Regions from separate parts of the Homo sapiens genome. Here regions 1, 2, 3 and 5 are each linked to region 4. Evidence: fine-mapped expression QTL. A gene starts in region 4. Each other region holds a variant in brackets. All regions are shown on one strand. Distances are between the middles of the regions.

What was found. PIP is the estimated chance that this variant, and not a neighbour inherited with it, causes the effect. A credible set is the group of variants that fine-mapping cannot tell apart.
Region 1: its variant is the best candidate, but not a certain one, in a credible set for the expression of ATP1B1 in lung (TOPMed, PIP 0.86).
Region 2: its variant is the best candidate, but not a certain one, in a credible set for the expression of ATP1B1 in whole blood (INTERVAL, PIP 0.52).
Region 3: its variant is the best candidate, but not a certain one, in a credible set for the expression of ATP1B1 in whole blood (TOPMed, PIP 0.61).
Region 5: its variant is the best candidate, but not a certain one, in a credible set for the expression of ATP1B1 in Th17 cells (Schmiedel 2018, PIP 0.58).

What each region holds. Positions count from the first base shown.
Region 1 is chr1:168,905,404-168,909,526 of GRCh38, reverse strand. LINC00970 (long intergenic non-protein coding RNA 970) reads left to right here. Exons shown (of 5, transcript NR_104091.1): 4 at 1,557-1,668. Among named protein-coding and RNA genes, the nearest start is that of LINC00626, 120 kb to the right of the region's middle. The variant C/T (reference allele first, on the strand shown) is at 2,425.
Region 2 is chr1:169,401,464-169,405,586 of GRCh38, reverse strand. All of the region lies in intron 4 of CCDC181 (coiled-coil domain containing 181), which reads left to right. Among named protein-coding and RNA genes, the nearest start is that of CCDC181, 24 kb to the left of the region's middle. The variant T/A (reference allele first, on the strand shown) is at 1,816.
Region 3 is chr1:169,454,733-169,458,855 of GRCh38, reverse strand. It overlaps a transcript of CCDC181 not described here. Among named protein-coding and RNA genes, the nearest start is that of SLC19A2, 29 kb to the left of the region's middle. The variant TAATA/A (reference allele first, on the strand shown) is at 2,426.
Region 4 is chr1:169,105,075-169,109,188 of GRCh38, reverse strand. It overlaps ATP1B1 (ATPase Na+/K+ transporting subunit beta 1), which reads right to left and starts at 2,499. Exons shown (of 6, transcript NM_001677.4): 1 at 2,263-2,499. The coding sequence starts at 2,359. RefSeq lists enhancers at 1,790-2,362, 2,363-2,935, 2,724-3,018, 3,509-4,082 and a silencer at 2,532-3,451.
Region 5 is chr1:169,003,598-169,007,720 of GRCh38, reverse strand. All of the region lies in intron 3 of LINC00970 (long intergenic non-protein coding RNA 970), which reads left to right. Among named protein-coding and RNA genes, the nearest start is that of LINC00970, 81 kb to the left of the region's middle. The variant G/A (reference allele first, on the strand shown) is at 2,242.

The DNA.
Region 1 (4,123 bases), 200 kb after region 4:
TTATCAAGCTTTTTCACCTTTCCGATTTGCTTCAAATGCCAAATGACTATAGAATGGTCGGCGTTGTGTTCTTCAGCAACTTCTCCTGTAGTTTTAAGAGGATCAGCTTCGATAAATACTCTCAGCTGGTCATTGTCAACTTTTGATGGCTGGCCACTCTGCTTCGTATCCTCAAGGCTCTCCTCTCCTTTGCAAAACTTCTCGAATACCACTCCACTGTACATTCGTTAGCAATTCCTGGGCCAAATGCGTCGTTGGTTTTGCGAATTGTTTCCGCTGCTTTACACTAATTTTGAACTCAAATAAGAAAATCACTTGAATTTGTTTTTGGTCTAACATCATTTCCATAGTCTAAAATAAATATAAAATAAACAGCAAGTAGTATGTCATTAGCAAAAACTAATAACAATAAAATAAAATAAAATAAAGTGAGAAATGTGCATTAAAATGATGTATAATACAACCACATTTATTTAAGAATGTATTCCAGTATCAAATGGCAAATTCCAACAATGCAAAAACCACAATTATGTTTGCACCAACCTAATAGCAGCAAATGTTAACAACATCCAACATTTTTTGAGCACTACTATATCTGTGTGTTTATGTATGTAAGTATGGATGTATATGTATGTATGTATGCATGTGTGTGTTCTCATATCCTCAAAGCAGGCCTGAGAGAAAAGTATTACTAATATTCATGTTTATAGATGAATAAAGTAACACAGAAATGTTCAATTACCTGTCCAAGTTCATATAAACTGTAAGCGACAGAGCAAATATCTGAACCTCTGAGTTTACCATTGTGATCTCTTTGTTTTCTATTGCTTCTTTGCTAGTATTACTGTTTTAAAAAGGAGTGGAAAGTCTATGGTCAGAAGTACTAATTGCATTAGGTTCTGTATAAGGCAGTTTAGTAACCTAGCCATATTGCCACACAAAACTTTTCCCACTCTAGTGTGACTTTTAGCACCTATCTTTATATAATCTAGATAGCTTAGAAGTTCTCTGTTTAATTATTACAGCTATTTCAGCAAGCCACTGAATTGAAAGGGAATAAAGCCACTAAAAGATATAAAGCTGTCTTTGGCTCAGATTTACCTCACTGGTTACAATCTCAGCATGACCATAGGTGATGTTATGCTGCTATGTTTATGGTGCTCACTTTGCGTAAATTTTATCAAAACATACTTCTCTTAGTGGAAACCAATCTGTATGCAGGAATACCTTTTGAGTTAGGAAAAGTTTGCATTAATGAAATATTGAGAAAGAGAAAGGAAAAAAGAAATGGTTGGGGAAGTTGTATTTCACTGAGGGAAAACACATGTTTATTTTTAACACACCCAATATTAGCATTGGTTAGTGCTGTGGAATCCATCTATTTCTGTTTCTTCTGAAAGTGACCTCCCATTGGAGTCAGTCACTTTATCCCTAGACATAAGGATTCTCACTTAGTCAAATGGAAACAAGAATTATCAGCAGAGAACATTTACCATGTGTGTGAAGTGGGTAAACAGCTGGTCAGTCTCCAACTAGGGCTTTTGTTTCCCTTTTAGAGCTGAAACCACAGGAAGAGGCCAATATGGACTTCTCTACTACTTTATTTCCCCTGAGCCTGGTCAGCTTCTTCCAAGGAGATTACTGGGAGGAAGCTTCTAGGATTTCTGGGTATGTGAAGTTGGGGATTGAGTGGGGAGGGAGGAAAGGAAGAAAGGGCAGAGAAGTTCAAAATGTGACAGTGCGAGTACCTTTGAGGGTAGCTATTCTTAACACAAGTGTCCACATCAGGCAGTATAGATTCAAGGACCATGGCTGGGCAGAAACTGTGGGCTTGGTGAAGGATGCACAGGAGGAGTGTGAGGCTAATACTAACCACAGTATTGATCAGATTGAACTTAAATCATTTTGCTAGTTATACATCAACACATCTGCCAGATGCAGCCTCACAGCCCCTGCAAGCGGGGTCCTTATGCATCAAAGCTCTTAACAGAGATATAGATGAATACTTCCTCTAAGACAACTCTGAGAAAACTGTGGCAAGGGAAGGAGGCAATCGCAGAGAAAATGCTAAATATCTTTCTTTAGGCAGCCAGCAGGAACTCTGGAGCTCTTGATCTGTCCAATGAAAGCTCTAATGTGGCACTTCTGCCCAGAGGCCTCAGCACACGTGGGTCATCATAGCCTTGAGAATAGATGTGACTGTGCCATAGGAGAATAAAAAAAGCTAAATTCAAAAGAATGTCATCAAACCAGTTTGATGAATAATGTTTGCCTATTGCTTGTATGCTTTTGAAAGAAGCATAAAATCAAAGGCCAAATTGTTAGGACAGTACACAAAGCAGGTAGCTGGTTAGCGTGGCTTTCACGTAATTCCAAAGCTAAGCTCCTATGTAAAAAGAACAAGTAGGCTGTTGAAAAGACTTT[C/T]GCAATTTATTCAGAAAGGATCTCATGTTCTAAGGCAACGACCACATTTTCCTTGTTAGAGGTGAGCAAATACCCAAGTTCATGGCCATGAGATCAAATGTAATTAATAAAATGTTAACCCACTTCTGACATTAAATCCCCAGATATTGAGTGTGAGAAGGAAGTAAAAAAGCCACTTCACTGAGAGGCTGTGGCTTATAAAACCAAGAAGAAAAACCACCAGCATTTTTGCTTTTTGCTTTAAATTTCTATAACAATGAATAGTCTATAATTTTTATGGAAGCTGACAGTTTTGAGTATCACAAAGTTAAAAAGAACGAGTATTAGTATTCTCATTTGTAGGTGAAAAAACTGGGACTCAGGCTCAAATTCTCAGAATGAGTGCTACATCTCCTTTTATCCCCTCATATCAAGGCACATCCTATCATGTTATGATTGCTTCAAACTCTGCTTAATATGGGAAGAAGCAGACAGGATCTGCCTAAATTACATCCAGGCTGTCTCCTGGTAGGCTCCCAGATCGTTTGCTGTTATCCTAAAAAGGAGAGGCACAGGTAGTCATAATTCTGGTTTGATGACATGCAGAGGATTGATGATTATACAATAACTAAGAAATGAGCAACGACTGGCACTGTGTTAAGAACTTTCTGTGCATTACCTTCATAATAATCCATGAAATTGGCATTATCATAATACTTTTTACAGATGAGGGCACTGAGGCACAGATGTGAAGTAACTTGCTCAAGGTTAGACGGTAAGTTCAAACCCATCCAGGTCCATACTGGTGGGCCTTAATAGTTAATACTTTGTCATTAACTTTGTTGTCAATGCCATTCCTATGCATTTGAATGCATTTAGAGGAGCAATTCATATAGTAGATAGTAGCACAGACTCAGAACCAGGAGGCCTGGGTTCTAGTCCCAATTCTGCTACTGATTAGTATGGTATCCAGATCTCATGTTCCTTATCTGAAAAAATAAACCTTTATGCTACATAGTTTCTATACGTTCCTGAAAATCTAATGGGGTATATTCGATTAAAGTTTCTGCCTAGTTACTCAAGGGTCTTCATTTTCTAACTAAGGTTTGAAAATATTCTCCTGGCTTCTGTAATTCTGCAAGGCTGTTTTAGTTGCTTTTGAAAAACTAAATTTCTAAGAACTATTTTATTGAGTGCTTGAGCCTTTCAGAGCTCCTAAAAAGGTTCGTAACTCATCTTCTCACATTGCTGCTTGTGTTGACCTTGGCATCCACTGTCCACAAACTCCTCAAGGCCATCCTGAAAGGTGAGTGGGAGGTGGCAGATCATTGTAGCAGGCACTGAGAGAGCCACCACCAAACACCTTCCCTTTGGTTGCTTTCAGCAGCTTAAAAATCACTTTCACAGACTGTAGGGATTCATTTATTCCTCACAACACACTTTGAGGTAGGCGCTAGCATTCTCATTTTATAGATAAAGAAATTAAAGCCCAGACAACCATCTATCTTGTCTAAGCTCCAAACATTTATAAATAAAGACCTGAGTTCTAGCCTACATCTCCTGCCTCTAAAGCTAAATATATTTCCATTGCTTCTTTTAAGGAAGGCTGCATAGGAATTGGCAGGGCCCTATAGTGGCAGGTTTGACTGCTCCACTCTTTATCATCCATGTGTTTTGGGTAAGCCAACTAATTTCTATGCCTCTCTTCTGTGAAATAGAT
Region 2 (4,123 bases), 300 kb before region 4:
CCAGCACCATTTATTAAATAGGGAATCCTTCCGCCGTTTCTTGTTTTTGTGAGGTTTGTCAAAGATCAGATGGTTGTAGATATGTGGTATTATTTCTGAGGGTTCTGTTCTGTTCCACTGGTCTATATCTCTGTTTTGGTACCAGTACCATGCTGTTTTGGTTACTGTATCCTTGCAGTGTAGTTTGCAGTCAGGTAGCGTGATGCCTCCAGCTTTGTTCTTTTTGCTTAGGATTGTCTTGGCAATGTGGGCTCTTTTTTGGTTCCATATGAACTTTAAAGTAGTTTTTTCCATTCTGTGAAGAAAGTCATTGATAGCTTGATGGGGATGGCATTGAATCTATAAATTACCTTGGGCAGTATGGCCATTTTCACGATATTGATTCTTACTATCTATGAACATGGAATGTTCTTCCATTTGTTTGTGTCCTCTTATTTCATTGAGCAGTGGTTTGTAGTTCTCCTTGAAGAGGTCCTTCACATCCCTTGTAAGTTGGATTCCTAGGTATTTTATTCCCTTTGAAGCAATTATGAATGAGAATTCACTCATGATTTGGCTCTCTGTTTGTCTGTTATTGGTGTATAAGAATGCTTGTGATTTTTGTACATTGATTTTGTATCCTGAGATTTTGCTGAAGTTGCTTATCAGCTTAAGGAGATTTTGGGCTGAGACGATGGGGTTTCTAAATATACAATCATGTCATCTGCAAACAGGGACAATTTGACTTCCTCTTTTCCTAATTGAATACACTTTATTTCTTTCTCCTGCCTGATTGCCCTGTCCAGAACTTCCAACACTATGTTGAATAGGAGTGGCGAGAGAGGGCATCCCTGTCTTGTGCCAGTTTTCAAAGGGAATGCTTCCAGTTTTGCCCATTCACTATGATATTGGCTGTGGATTTCTCATAAATAGCTCTCATTATTTTGAGATACGTCCCATCAATACTTAGTTCATTGAGAGTTTTTAGGATAAAGGGCTGTTGAATTTTTTCGAAGGCCTTTTCTGCATCTATTGAGATAATCATGTGGTTTTTGTCTTTGGTTCTGTTTAGATGATGGATTACGTTTATTGATTTGCATACGTTGAACCAGGCTTGCATCCCAGGGATGAAGCCCACTTGATCATGGTGGATAAGCTTTTTGATGTGCTGCTGGATTTGGTTTGCCAGTATTTTATTGAGGATTTTTGCATCAATGTTCATCAGGGGTATTGGTCAAAAATTCTCTTTTTTTGTTGTGTCTCTGCCAGGCTTTGGTATCAGGATGATGCTGGCCTTATAACGAGTTAGGGAGGATTCCCTCTTTTTCTGATGATTGGAATAGTTTCAGAAGGAATGGTACCTGCTCCTCTTTGTACCTCTGGTAGAATTTGGCTGTGAATCTGTCTGGTCCTGGACTTTTTTTGGTTGGTAGGCTATTAATTATTGCCTCAATTTCAGAGCCTGTTATTCGTCTATTCAGGGATTCAGCTTCTTCCTGGTTTAGTCTTGGGAGGGTGTATGTGTCCAGGAGTTTATCCATTTCTTCTAGATTTTCTAGTTTATTTGCATAGAGGTGTTTATAGTATTCTCTGATGGTAGTTTGTATTTCTGTGGGATCGGTGGTGATATCCCCTTTATCAATTTTTATTGCATCTATTTGATTCTTCTCTCTTTTCTTCTTTATTAGTCTTGGTAGCAGTCTATCGATTTTGCTGATCTTTTCAAAAAACCAGCTCCTGGATTCATTGATTTTTTTGAAGGGTTTCTTTTGTCTCTATCTCCTTCAGTTCTGCTCTGATCTTAGTTATTTCTTGCCTTCTGCTAGCTTTTGAATG[T/A]GTTTGCTCTTGTTTCTCCAGTTCTTTTAATTGTGATGTTAGGGTATCAATTTTAGATCTTTCCTGCTTTCTCTTGTGGGCATTTAGTGCTATAAATTTCACTCTACACACTGCTTTAAATGTGTCCCAGAGATTCTTGTATGTTGTGTCTTTGTTCTCATTGGTTTCAAAGAACATCTTTATTTCTGCCTTCATTTCGTTATCTACCCAGTAGTCATTCAGGAGCAGGTTGTTCAGTTTCCACGTAGTTGAGCGGTTTTGAGTGAGTTTCTTAAGCCTGCGTTCTAGTTTGATTGCACTGTGGTCTGAGAGACAGTTTGTAATAATTTCTGTGTTTTTACATTTGCTGAGGAGTGCTTTACTTTCACCTATGTGGTCAATTTTGGAATAAGTGTGATGTGGTGCTGAGAAGAATGTATATTCTGTTGATTTGGGGTGGAGTTCTGTAGATGTCTATTAGGTCCGCTTGGTGCAGAGCTGCGTTCAATTCCTTGATATCCTTGTTAATTTTCTGTCTCGTTGATCTGTCTAATGTTAACAGTGGGGTGTTAAAGTCTCCCATTATTAATGTGTGGGAGTCTAAGTTTCTCTGTAGGTCTCTAAGGGTTTGCTTTATGAATCTGGGTGCTCCTGTATTGGGTGCATATATATTTAGGATAGTTCGCTCTTCTCATTGGATTGATACCCCATCATTATATAATGGCCTTTTTTGTATCTTTTGATCTTTGTTGGTTTAAAGTCTGGTTTTTTCAGAGACTAGGATTGCAACCCCTGCTTTTTTTTTTTTTTGTTTGTTTTCCATTTGCTTGGTAGATCTTCCTCCTTCCCTTTATTTTGAGCCTATGTGTGTCTCTGCACATGGGTATCCTGAATACAGCACACTGATGGGTCTTGACTCTTTATCCAATGTGCCAGTCTGTGTCTTTTAATTGGAGCATTTAGCCCATTTACATCTAAAGTTAATATTGTTATGTGTGTATTTGGTCCTGTCATTATGATGTTAGCTGGTTATTTTGCTCGTTAGTTGATGCAGTTTCTTCCTAGCCTTGATGGTCTTTACATTTTGGCATGTTTTTGTGGTGGCTGGTACTGGTTGTTCCTTTCCATGTTTAGTGCTTCCTTCAGGAGCTCTTTTAGGGCAGGCCTGGTGGTGACAAAATCTCTCAGCATTTGCTTGTCTGTAAGGTATTTTATTTCTCCTTCACTTATGAAGCTTAGTTTGGCTGGATATGAAATTCTGGGTTGAAAATTCTTTTCTTTAAGAATGTTGAATATTGGCCCCCACTCTCTTCTGGCTTGTAGAGTTTCTGCCGAGAGATCCGCTGTTAGTCTGATGGGCTTCCCTTTGTGGGTAACCCAACCTTTCTCTCTGGCTGCCCTTAACATTTTTTCCTTCATTTCAACTTTAGTAAATCTGACAATTATGTGTCTTGGAGTTGCTCTTCTTGAGGAGTATCTTTGTGGTATTTGCTGTATTTCCTGAATTTGAATGTTGGCCTGCCTTGCTAGCTTGGGGAAGTTCTCCTGGATCATATCCAGAAGAGTGTTTTCTAACTTGGTTCCGTTCTCCCCGTCACTTTCAGGTACACCAATCAGACGTAGATTTGGTCTTTTCACATAGTCCCATATTTCTTGGAGGCTTTGTTCATTTCTTTTTACCCTTTTTTCTCTAAACTTCTCTTCTCACTTCATTTCATTCATTTGATCTTCAATCACAGATACCCTTTCTTCCACTTGATCAAATTGGCTACTGAAGGTTGTGCATGCATCGCGTAGTTCTTGTGCCATGGTTTTCAGCTCCATCGGGTCATTTAAGGTCTCCTCTACACTGTTTATTCTAGTTAGCCATTCGTCTAATCTTTTTTTCAAGGTTTTTAGCTTCTTTGCGATGGGTTCAAACATCCTTCTTTAGCTCGGAGAAGTTTGTTATTACCGATTGTCTGAAGCCTTCTTCTCTCAACTCATCAAAGTCATTCTCCATCCAGCTTTGTTCCATTGCTGGGGAAGAGCTGCATTCCTTTGGAGAAGAGGCACTCTGATTTTTAGAATTTTCAGCTTTTCTACTCTGGTTTCTCCCCATCTTTGTGGTCTTATCTACCTTTGGTCTTTGACGATGGTGATGTACAGATGGGGTTTTGGTGTGGATGTCCTTTCTGTTTGTTAGTTTTCCTTCTAACAGTCAGGACCCTCACCTGTGGGTCTATTGGAGTTTGCTGGAGGTCCACTCCAGACCCTGGTTTGCTTGGGTCTCACCAGCAGAGGCTGCAGAACAGCAAATATTGCAGAACAGCAAATGTTGCTGCCTGAT
Region 3 (4,123 bases), 350 kb before region 4:
AATTATTAAAAATTAAAGACTATTAAAAATCACCAAAGACATAAATAAATAAGCAACTGCAAGTAAGAGTCAGCAGAACAACAAACAGATTAAGAGTCTAATGATTTCAGATATTGGAATTATAAGAGATATACAGTATAAAATAAATATGTATAAAATTTAGATACAAAAGATGAAATCACAGAAATGAGCAAGTACCAAGAAAGTAACAATATGACAAGACTGACTTGAAAAAGAACCTAAAGAGATATTTTAGAATTTAAAAATAGAAATGTTGGGAAGCTTCCAAATTGGTGAACACATCTCTGTGCCAGTAGAGTGCCTACCCCAACTCCATGGGGACAGAAGCTCCTGCACTCAGGACCCTTCTAGATTTCCCCTGTGTGCCTTTTTATCAAATTGTTCATTTATATCATTTATAAGAAACTGGTAAACATTTAAAAAAACAGAAATGTTGAAGTTAAAATTCCATGGATAAGATCTCATAAATTGCTGGTGGGAATGTAAATTGGTACAATCCCTTTGAATAACATTTTGGCATTATCCTTTAAAGTCAAATATATGCATTTCCTATGACCGAGCAATTCACCTCCTATTTATATTTATAGGTTGGTGCAAAAGTAATTGCGATTTTGGCCATACTTTTAAATGGCAAAAAAAACAAAACAAAAAAAAAAAAACAAAAATTACTTTTGCCCCAGCCTTTGGTTGGAGCAGCACTTTTCAATATGGTAGCCACTAGACACTTGTGACTAGTGAGTACTTAAAATATGACTATACAGGAATGAAAATGAATAAGCCAGAACCACAAGCAATAATTTTAGTCAATCTTAAATAAAACAGAAAGACACAAAAGAACTAAGACACAAAAGAATCTATCAATACAATTTGTTCAAACTATTGTCTAAATATTTATATATAGGTGACAAAAATATAAAACAATTATCATAAAAGTCTAGCAAATGTTTATTTCTAGAAAGATGAAGAAAGGTATACTTAAGAAGGGGCACACAGATTTCTATGGTACTTGTGTTGTTGACTTGGAATATTGTACATGTATATTTGCTATATAATTACATATTTATGTTCTTTTTTGTATATTTATTAAATTTAGCACTAAAACACTTTAAAAAGCTCAATGGCTAGGTTAAACAGCAGATTAAATACAGTTAAAGATAAAATTAGTGAAGTGGAAAGTAAAACTGAAGAAATTACCTAGTATAGTAATTCCTCTATGTCATGGATAGGTTCTTAGAAACCGCATCTTTAAGTGAAATGATATACTGTATGCTATAGGAACTTAACTCTTGTTTGTATCAATTAGCCTATGGTAAAATTGGTTTGATTATACAGTACATCATTTTTCTTAAAGTTGCAGTTTCCAAGAACCTGTTAATGATGTTAAGTGAGGACTTACTGTATGTAGCAATGAGATAGGAGATTAAAAAATATAAGAAGAGGTTAAGATATAAGGTGAACAGAATGAGAAGATCTTATAGCCTCAGAAGGAATGAATAGATAGAATGGAGGAGAAGCAATATTCTATGTTAAGAATGAGAATTTAGCAAAACTGACGAAAAACATGAATCCACAGATACAGGAATCAGAGTGTATCCCAAGCCAGATATCTAAAAACTACTAGACACATAATAGTTAAATTACAATTAACTTAGGACAAGGAGAAGATCATAAAAGCAGCCAGAGAGAAAAGACATCATATATAAAAAAAGAATCAGTTAGCTAACAGCCATTTCTCAAGAGCAACAATGGAAGCTAGAAGGCAACAGTAATGAAATTACTGAAGGAAAATAACTTCCTACCTAAAATTGTGTACCCAGAAGAGTGATCTGTTAAGAACTAGAATAAAAACAGTCACAGATTTTAAAAATGGAAAAAGTCCATGCCAGCAATGGATTATCCAGGAGAAATGAACAAGACCCTAATAGGAAGGTCTCACATACAAGAAGTGAGGATGAGATAAAAGGATAAGCATTTAGATAAATCCAGATGTCTGAGTCCAGTTTCTTTTGTTTATAACAGAATACCTAAAACTGGGTAATTTATAAAGAAAAGGGATTTATTTCTTACCATTCTGGAGGCTGGGAAGTCCAAGGTTGACTGCATGTGGTGAAAGCCTTCTTTCCAGTGGGAACTCTACAGAGTTCAGAGTTCAGAGTTCCAAGGCAGTGTGGGGTATCACATGGCAAGAGGACTGAGCATGATAATGTGCTAACTTAGATCTCTCTTTTATTATAAAGCCACCATTTCCCCTCCCATGATAACTCATTAATCTGTTAATGGACACATTTTTTCATGAGTGCAGGCCCCATCTCTCAATAACTGCCACATTGGGGATTAAGTTTCAATATGGGTTTTGGAGGGAACATTGAAACCACAGCACCAAACAGTCATTAGCTTTACTAAT[TAATA/A]ATGATTATTTATTCTGTGGTTTATATTTTAAAATACTATACATGAAGAGTATATAAATTGGGCTTATGCGAGGTACTTAGATACAGCAACAATGCAACCTGGCTTTGTGAAGGGTTGCACAGTGCATCTGTGCTCCCCACCACAAAACACTGCCAGGAAACTAAAGATGATGATCACATTAGCTAAGTGAGAGTTAAGGAGGAGCTCTTGAATAGTTCGGCAAGGTTCCTAGCCACTTCCTACAAAAATTGAAACTAAGCCAAAAAGGGAGGAAGAAAGGATAAATCTTCAGCCAAAAAACTGCAAAGGAAAATGGGGAGCAAAAGGCAAACAGGCTGAAATGGCCATCTAAGAAACTAAAGACAACTTTCCTGCAGAAAGTAGAGAAACTAAAACTGAGGAGGGTCTAGTCTTTAATTAAGGAGAGAAAAAAAATCAAATCTGATTAATATAGTTACCAAGTCTTATGGTTCCTGTATCTTCTTCATTATAATCTGGATAAATATTTTTATTACCTATGTTGTAAATAAAAGATTGTTTAAATAGCTCTAAAAACACATATTTTAGAAGGAAGTTGTGTGTGTGCACAAGTGTGCATGTGTGAGTGCACACCTGCATGTATGTACTTTCTTTAAAAAAAGAAATGATATGCCTGTAATTTTTCTGTACAACCTAAAATGTGAAGATGTCAACATAAGGGAGGATTTGACAGTCTTGGGTGTTAACTGTATTGGCTGCTAGGAAGGGCAGTTTTTGTATCTTATGAATTTAACAAAATGGCCATTAGCAGTCACAATTATCCACTAATATCTCTGAATATTTTAAATTACTTAAAGCCTATCTCCATGTTCTTGCTTTAAAAACAAATAGAATTGCTCCTAAAGAAAACTGCTCCCTCATTTTGGCTCTCCATATATCAGAATTGTTAAAGTTTGGAAATTTTGAAGTATAGCAGTATGATACTAAATTGTTAATTAGTGGGGCTTTAAACCTAACAGTTTATCAATATTTGAAATTACTAGGGCCTGATATATTTTCTTAAGGAAAGTTTGCCTCTAGCTTTAAGTTGGAAAGTCACTACAATTACTGTTTAGAAAAGAATGGAATAATTAATACTTTAGAAAACTTACATTAGGACTTGTTTACAAATTATCCATAATGGCTATGTACTGATTGAATAAAATCTCAATTATGAAAGAAAAAATTTAAATGAAAACATACGAGCCTTGAAAAAACCCAAATATTCATTTTCCTGTCAATAGACAGGAAAATTAAAACAAAACATAAATGCAAATTAAATATATTACTAATTTAACTCTCATTTAGTCAATAGACAGGAAAATGAATAGAAAAAATTTGGTATTTTGTGATAGCGGAATGTTATACAGTGGCAAAAAACAAATGAATATAATTGCATACAGTAGCATTTATAAATTTTAGAGAATAATTAAACTGTTGAGAAAAAAACAAGTAGCCGTCTATGTTGTATTGTACCATTTCAAAAATAAAGCTCAAAATCAAGTATGTAAATCAAACAACATATTGGTTAAGAATAACACACATAATGGATAAAACTTTTTCTTTAAAGGCATGTAATAATATACTTAAAATTTGTGATAGTGGTTACCTTTTTTGGTAAGACAGGGAGATGGAATAGGTAGGTCATGAACATTGGTAATGTTTTTAATTTGAT
Region 4 (4,114 bases):
TCCAGGCCTAGCTGTAAATATAAAACCTACCAATGTCTGTATTAACCTAATAAAAAGGCAGAAGGCACAAAGTGATTTGCATGCTGTGATTTCTCCAGCAGGTGACAGGCGAGTCTCCTGCGTCCATCTTGGTGAAAATCTACCTATAAGCAAAATCGAGCCAAGGGCATCCTGCCCTCGCCCCAAGGGCATCCATGTTGGGCCCAGTGCTGGAAAAGGGGCATTTTCTCCGTAGGAGACGGTAATTGCTGCCGCCTTTTCTACCTAAGAGAGGCTCTGACAGTTTTTACACTGCCAGAAAGGGGCAGACATATTAGCACAAAACAAAAAGGGGATTTTTAGCCCAGCACCTGTACCGTGGAACATGGAAGGGAAGAGGAGGCAAGTACAGCAGTCCTGGGTCTACATTCACAAATCAGCATACTGATAGCTTGCTGGATAGGATATCAAGACATAAAAATTGACACACACGGTCTCTCTTTCTCTCTCTCATGGAGGTGCTGCCCATTAAATGTCGGCTTAAAAATGAGTCAGTCCATACTGCCTTACCCTCTAAAGCAAGTATTATTCTGAGAAGCATGAAACTGGAATGAGCAAAGATGCATATTATACTAAGGGGAAAAAGACAAGAAGGCAAATTTCACAATGTGCCTAGAGTCAATGCAGCCCCTGCCCCTGTGACGCAGCAGGGTCAGACCACCAGAGAAGGAAGCCCCAGCTAACCTGGGGAGAAGGGTGCCCATACCGCAGTGCACCTTCCAGGCCTCCCTCAAGTTACAAGGAGTTGCCAGGGAGCTGTTCATTCTACACACACCCCACAGTTCTTCAGGTTTTCCTTTCCACAGTAAAACACAGGAAACTACCTTTATGCCTGAGACACTATGACAATAATCTCAATGAAGAAGTCTCCCCAAAATAAAATATAAAACAAAAGCTAAAAGCCATTAAAGAACTACATTTTCCATGGCTCAGGGATACCTATGCTTCCCAGTAACACCTTGGAAAGACGCTTCACCTTGACTAACCTTGAAGTGTGATGCATTATTAACCCTTTAATTTTCAATCAAGAGAGACTCACAGGCTGCATTTTTTTTTCTTTACAAAAATTCATATATTCCAGCTTCTTCCATTTCAAAATGTCAGCTAAGCACTATTTCCCTGACTCATTCTCCTGCCGATTCCCACAGATCCTCCCAAGCAGGAACACCAATCGGCCTCTGTTCAGGACTCCCTGAATGACTGCAGTGGTGGTGCCAGTGGTGTTGGTGGTGATGGTCATGATGATGATGATGATGATGATGATGTTGGAGGAGGAGGGGGCAGTGATGCAGCAGGGGGAGTTCCCTCCCTCCTTCCCTCACGCAGTCACGACTCATAGATTCGCCTACAACTCTGCCCTTCAAAATGACCTTTTTTTTAAAAAAAAAAAAGTCACCTTTCCGGAGAGGCTGAAAACAAGAAATCTAATTTTCGATGGAAAAAAGTCTATCCAACCAAGCAACAGGCTGCACAAAATATTTTAAGATCAGCTGCTCTGCGTTTATATTCCCTTCACCATAATCAACCCAACCTACTGACTGATCCACAACTGTCTGTGTAGACCTTGAAAACAACCAGACTTTGCCAGGTTTCGGGCCAAAGCTAAGAATCGGAGTCCTGAAATGGAGCTTATTGAACCATTTCTGGGTGGTGATGACTCCAGGGGAGGTCATGGAGGGAAATCCTTAGCCATCGCTGTGAAATACTACAGTGTGGATGGATTCCTCTCCACCCTTCTCTTTCCTCTCTTTTGAGATACGTATTTAGACTAGAAGAAAGATGCTGTAACACACAACCTCGTCTGCATTAGATCCCATCACCTCACGAGGTTCTCTCAAGACCCCAGATCTCATTTTTTTTTTAAGGACTCAGGACACGGGAGAGACAAATGTAGTCTCGCAGAGCCTGACTATTCCCAGGAGTAAAAGGCTCAACCGATGCACGGTAGGAAAGACTGCAAATTACCAAGCCAAGATCGCTACGATATGCATAACCTTCCGCCTGTCGTGTTCCAGCCCCGACCCTGCGCCCCACTCTGGGGACACCGCATTCCGCACAGGACTGCAAGCCCAGGCCGGCGCGACCCAGCAGCGTCCACCACCCTCGCCCCCGCCACCCCGGCCAGCGCGGTGGGTGCGGAACCGGCCGCGGACCCTGCGCAGGGGATGCGCCGCCCGGGAAAGATCAGACGCGGCGGCCGGGAGCTGCGGACCCCGTACTTACACCAACTGCCACCGGTCCTGCCCAGAAACTCCTTCTTCTCTGAGTTCCAGATGAATTTCTTCCAGCTGCCCTCCTCCTTGGCTTTCCCGCGGGCCATGGCGATGGCGGGTCAGCAGCTGCCGCGGTCCGGAGGGTGGGTGGCTGCGGCGCGCGCCCTGGCGTCCTCTGCGCCGCTCGGCTTCTCCGGCCTGGCTCTCTGCAGGCAGGACGCGCCGCTGCCGCTGCGGCTCTCGGAGTGCGAGACGCGCGGCGGAGGAGCCAAGGCAGGAGCAGGAGGAGGGGGAGGCGGCGGCGGCGGCGGCGGCGGGGCGGGGGCGGAGGGAGGGACGGCGCAGGCTGCGCGGCTCCGAGCCCCGCACCTATTGGTGGGCGCGCAGCCGCTCGCGGGCTTTCTTTGGTCCGCCGAGCGCTCCTCTAGCCCTTGGGGGGTCGGGGGCTCCGCGAACCCGTAGCTGCCGCTCCCGCTGCCACTGGGGACGTGTGCTGGGCCCCCGCCTCCCCTGACCTCTGCAGAGACAGGCCCGGGGTAGGAGAGTCAGAGAGGGAAGGACGGACAAGCGGACTGCGGGGCGCCACCGGCACTCCCGCCAGGAGCCGAGGAATTGGCTGCGCCCGCCCTACCTTTACTATATACCGCGCCCCGGCGGCCGTGCGCCCCGCCCTCTAGCGGCCCGGTGGCCAATCGCCGGCGCCAGGGGCAGGGACTCGGCCCGAGAGGGCGGGTTCGGGGCCGGCACAAAGGAGCCGCCGGGGCTAGAGGGGCCGCTTGGATCGCTGGGCGCGGGGCGTTGGGCGCGGGGCGAGGAGGAGGCGGGGGCGGCGGTGAGGGACGCGCAGGCAGCGCCGCGCAGCCCCCTCCCAGCTCCCGGCTGGGCGTGAACCGCCCCTTCCGTGGCTGGGGGATCCGCACCTGGGTCGCCCGGAGCCTCGAGGACCCCAGCCCGGCAGTCCTGGCCCAGCCTCCACGCCTCTGCCTGCCCGCCCGCGCTTTCGGCCTCCCTGGGCTGTGGGTCCACCCCTCCTGGGCGCTGGCGGGGTGGGGGAAGGTCACTCCGGGACGCCGGACTGGCGAGGACTCTGCCCAGCTCCGCCCCGCCTCCCGCTCCTGCACCTGCCGCCCCCTCGCACTCCCCGCCACTGCGGTTGCAGTTCCGGCCCTTCCCTCTTCTTTGCAGGCCAGCCCAGCCGGCAGCCCCGGTTCCTGACTGCCCGGCTGTGCCCCTTGTGGGCGGCCTGAACCACCTCGAGCAGGACAATTGCCAAACCCACCCAGGGCGGTAGCCCGCAGTGAGTTGTCCCGTAGAAACCAATTGAGACTCAGGCCAGTCTAGACCCCAGGCAACAATATCTGCACGTGACCCAGCCACCGAGGACTTTCTTGGTGCCCGGTCGGCGGCGGGTATTCTCATTGGCATGCTTTTATGCCCCCTTGGGGGTATCGATCCCTTTGTTCTGCTGTAAAATTCTTGGAGCCAAAGGACCTTTGGGAAAACCTAGCGCATAGGGCAAGATGTTGCAGACCTGGGGCATAGAGTACCCCTTCCCACTCTTTGTCCGCTGTTGCTGGAAAGCCAAACTCTTGGTTTCATCCCTCTCCTATGAGCCCCCAAGCAGCTTTATACATCCCTCTGAGGACAGTGACACAGCAGAAAACACCGGGATGCTTCTGCTTCCACTGCAGAGAAGCCCTATCCCCAGGGGCCATCATGGCCCATCTTGACGTCCCAGCCCCATATCAGAGAATTCCCCAATACCAGGATGCTTGTCCTTATCCTGGCCACCCTTCTGTCCCCAAGGTCAACCTCGCTGGCATAAAGACAAGCCCGAACTGATTAAGAATGAGCATTTTTCT
Region 5 (4,123 bases), 100 kb after region 4:
ACATGTAGTAGAATCAGTAGGATAAATCCTCAACCAAGATATAAGCATCAGGAATTTTTTAGTCACAAGTGACAAAAACCTGACCCAAGCAGGCTACACAAGTTTTATAAAAAGGTATTATTGGCTCGAGAAATTGAAGAGTTCCTGGGGTAACTATTGCTGCAGGTATGTACTGATTCAGAACCCAAATGATATCACCAGGATACATTTCTCCACTCTGTTTCCACTTGTGTGAGTCTTATCCTCAGGTTCAAGTTTCACACAGGTTCTCTGACAGTTTTCCCAAATTTCATATCCTCACACCATCAAGCACAGAAGAGGACAGTCTGTGTCCCATTATTTACAGCAAAAGTGGCAACATTCACTCATATTGGATTGGCTTAAGTCATATGTTTCTCCTCCTCCCTCTGAACCATCATTAGAGCCATGGGAAAAAAGATTTACTGATTGACTTAATTAAGAAGCCATTTGGGGTTCACTCCTGGAGCTGAGAGTGGGTTCCATGTAAACCAAACTGTATAGGTATTTCCCAAAGGAAAATATGGGTATGCTGGGGTAAAAACCAACACATATCCAATTCATCATGTGGATAAATTTCAAAACATATGTGGTGGTCACCTTCACAGAATTTTAAAGTGGAAACCAATCTCAAATCATGTAGTCTAGTCTTCTTAGTGGAGAGTCTAGTAAAAAGTCAAGGGGAAAATAATAGATTAAAATATTCCGTGATGTTGTATGGGAAAGGAAGTAAACTGCTCTGGCCCCCAAAGACTAAGCTAGAGTCTAAGCTAGGAAGTTAGAGGCAGACAGAATCTAAGGAAAAAAATGTTTTGATTACCATAAAAGTCTAATCCTGGAATAGAATTCTTCGGGCAATAGTTTATTTTCTGTTTTTGGAGTTGTTCAAATGAGGCTAAACATAAACATTTAGGGATGTAGTAGAAGAAAGTCATGAGTTGCATGGGGATGAGAGCCGACAACTGCGAAGCTTCATTCCAGTTTTAGCATCCTATAAGAAAACACTATATGAATGATCATAGCAGCATTATTCCCAATGGTCAAAAAGTGGAAATAAATCAAATGGCTACCGTTGAATGAACTGCTAAATAAAATGTAGTATCTTCATACAATAGAATATAATTCAGAAATACAGATACGTGGTACAACATGAATGAACCTTGAAAACATTACACTAAGTGAAAGAAGCCAACCATAAAAGACTGCATGTTGTATGATTCCAGTCCTATGAAATGTCCATGAGAGGCAAAATCAATAGAGGCAGAAAGTAGAGTAGTGGTTGCCTAGGCCTGAGGGTTGGGGATGACTGCTAATGGGTATGGAGTTTCTTTTTGGGATGATGAAAATGTTCTAAATTGGTTGTGGTGATGATTGCATAATTCTGTGAATTTACTAAAAACTATTGAATTGTACACTTTAAATGGGTGAATGGCATTGTATGTGAATTAATATCAATAAAGTTGTTATTGAATAAAATGAATACTATGAAATAAATTTTAAGGGGAGAGCAGAGCTTGGATATACGGTTGTACTGTTTTGACAGAGGACTGAAAGGAGAAAAAGCCCAGAAGTAACATATATTACCTAGGGAGGAGGGCTGATTAAAATACAACTCTGTTCAGCTCTGTGGGGAGGTCAGGGCAGAGAGCCGGCAGCGAGAGGACAGTCGGCATTTCGTGTGGGTGAGGATGCTGTAAGCATGTCCTGAAATGGACAAAGAAGCCTTGTCTTGGAACACTGGGGAGAGTCTAAGGCAGACTCCCTCTTCTTCAAGATCTGCCTTTGCCCAGCTCTGCACATGGACATGTCTTTCTAGCTAGACCCCTTAGTCCCTCTAACCCCACACTCATATCCAAGCAGCTAAAGGCATAATTTTTCCTCCCAGCTCTTTCATCTCTTATTAAAATGTTTTCTTTCCTGGTGCCTGAATCATTTGACATAATGTTTTTCTCCTCTCTTTGTTTTGTGCTTACCAGTGTACTTTCTCTCTCGTTGGCATAGGCTATTTCTTGTTTTTTTTTATTATTAATAAGACAACTTTGACTTTATATTTCATTTATTATTCCCTTGGGTCCTTTATGACCTTATCATAAGGTTTCTTTTGTATAAATGTGAAGATTCTCTAATATACTTAAAATGAGGGAAACCAGTGTTTCAAGTACTCACATTAAAAAGTCCTATACAACAAAAATAAGGACAAACCAACCTGACATTTATTTGAAC[G/A]ATTTATACAATAAAGAACTTGAGTGCCTCCTTGAAAGACTTTTTTTCCCTCTGTATTCTCATTGATTCTTTATGACAATAGGGGTACAGGTTTATGTCTTATCCAGGGTTTATTCAATGTATCCTCTAAGTTTTCACCCAACTAAAACTAACATTGGATTTCTCATTCATTAATCCACTCAATTATTCATTTATTTATCCACTCATGCAACACTTGTCACCTTGCTAGGTGCTGGGAATATAATGATGAGTATAAGAGCATGTCTCTGGCTTTCATGACACATACAATCTAACAAGAGAGACAGATGTTGAGCAAATACTTACACAAATTTGACAAATAATTATATGATTAAATTTATGATGTATTATAAGAAGAGAAATATAAGGTATTGTTATAATATATAGTAGTGCCTTTTCTTTCTTGCCTTTCTTTCTACACTTGCTAAAGGAGTTCCTGAAAAATGTTGGCTACAAAGAGAAATGTGGAAAAGAGAAGAGTCATTCATTCAACATTTCAACAAATATACATTGTTTTAAGCTTGGAGAATCTTCATCAATTCTAATTTTGTGAACATATCTACAGTGAGAGGAATTTCAAATTACTCAATATTTGAAAAGACATTATAATTTAAGTCATGCAAGTAAATGGTTTAGTTAACTAAAGTAGAGGTGGCCCTAATCTAATGACTAGAACATTCACTTGTAACAAGCAACATTAAAAAAAGCTTTGGCAAGTTTTGATTTAAACATAACGTAAGTAAGGAAAAATGTGGAGAGTATGTGTATATGGCTTGATGATTTTTTACAAACTGAACACACCTATATAACCAGAACCCAAGTCAAGGGGCAGGATATTCCCAGACCTCCAGAAGCTCCACCCATGCCCTCTTTCAGTCACTAAATTCAGAGTACAAGAGGACTAATATTTTTGAGCCCTTGCTGTGTGCTAGGCACAATGCAAAGTCTTTTATAGATGCTGTGGTGTGTTAAGAGTGGCTTTTTCCCCTCATATGTATATAAATTATTCCCTGGGAATCTAGTTGACATTAGTCATTTAATTAGCAAATTCTTCAGATAGCTAGAAAGTGTCCCTTGGCTCAGCATAGATAGAACTTTTGCAGTTTCACATTCCTGGAGAATTTCCACAAGTGCTGGAAATTTCCATGATGCCAGGGGCCATGGAGCAATGAACAGAAACAGGGAAATGGCAGTTTCCCTGGATGGCTGTGTGCCAGGCCCTCAAGTGCAGGGTGCCAGGACTTCTTCTCTTCTTGCCCTGCATCTCCTCCTTCCCCCAGGGGAAACCCCTCAGCCTGTGTGCCCCTCCCCAGTCCTCTCACCTCAAAATCCTCCTCAAGGGTAAGGAGGACGGAGTTTTTAATTTCTCTGAATAGTGAAGATCACTGTAGGGTGAGCACTTCTTGGACTACTGTAATCACTCAAGGGTCTTGAGAAATTTCCATAGTGTATGAGGCACTATTCCTTTGAGTTCTGGATGCTTGTGGCAGAGGACTGCAATGGGGTTTTAGATAGAGTCTGCCTGGGAAGAAAAAAATCTGAAGGACCCTGGTAGATAGGAACAGAAAAAGCCACCCATTGCCCAAAGGAGGTTTGGCCTTTATGGCCAGAAACAATACGGGTCTTAGGAATTTGGTGAGAGCTCAGAATTTCTGACCAAGGCTTCTGTAAAACCATGCAATCTTGCTGCTTCTGAGTCGTGATTTTCCTCCACTATCTATTCTCTGGTGTTATCTGCCATGATCGTGCCAAATCTTCTTTCTCTCTTCAAACCCCAGCCCCAACTTACTATTTCTTCCACGGTCAGGAGACAACTTCACCCCCTCCTTTGCTGCAACTTTTATAGTCACCAAACAAGGCCATA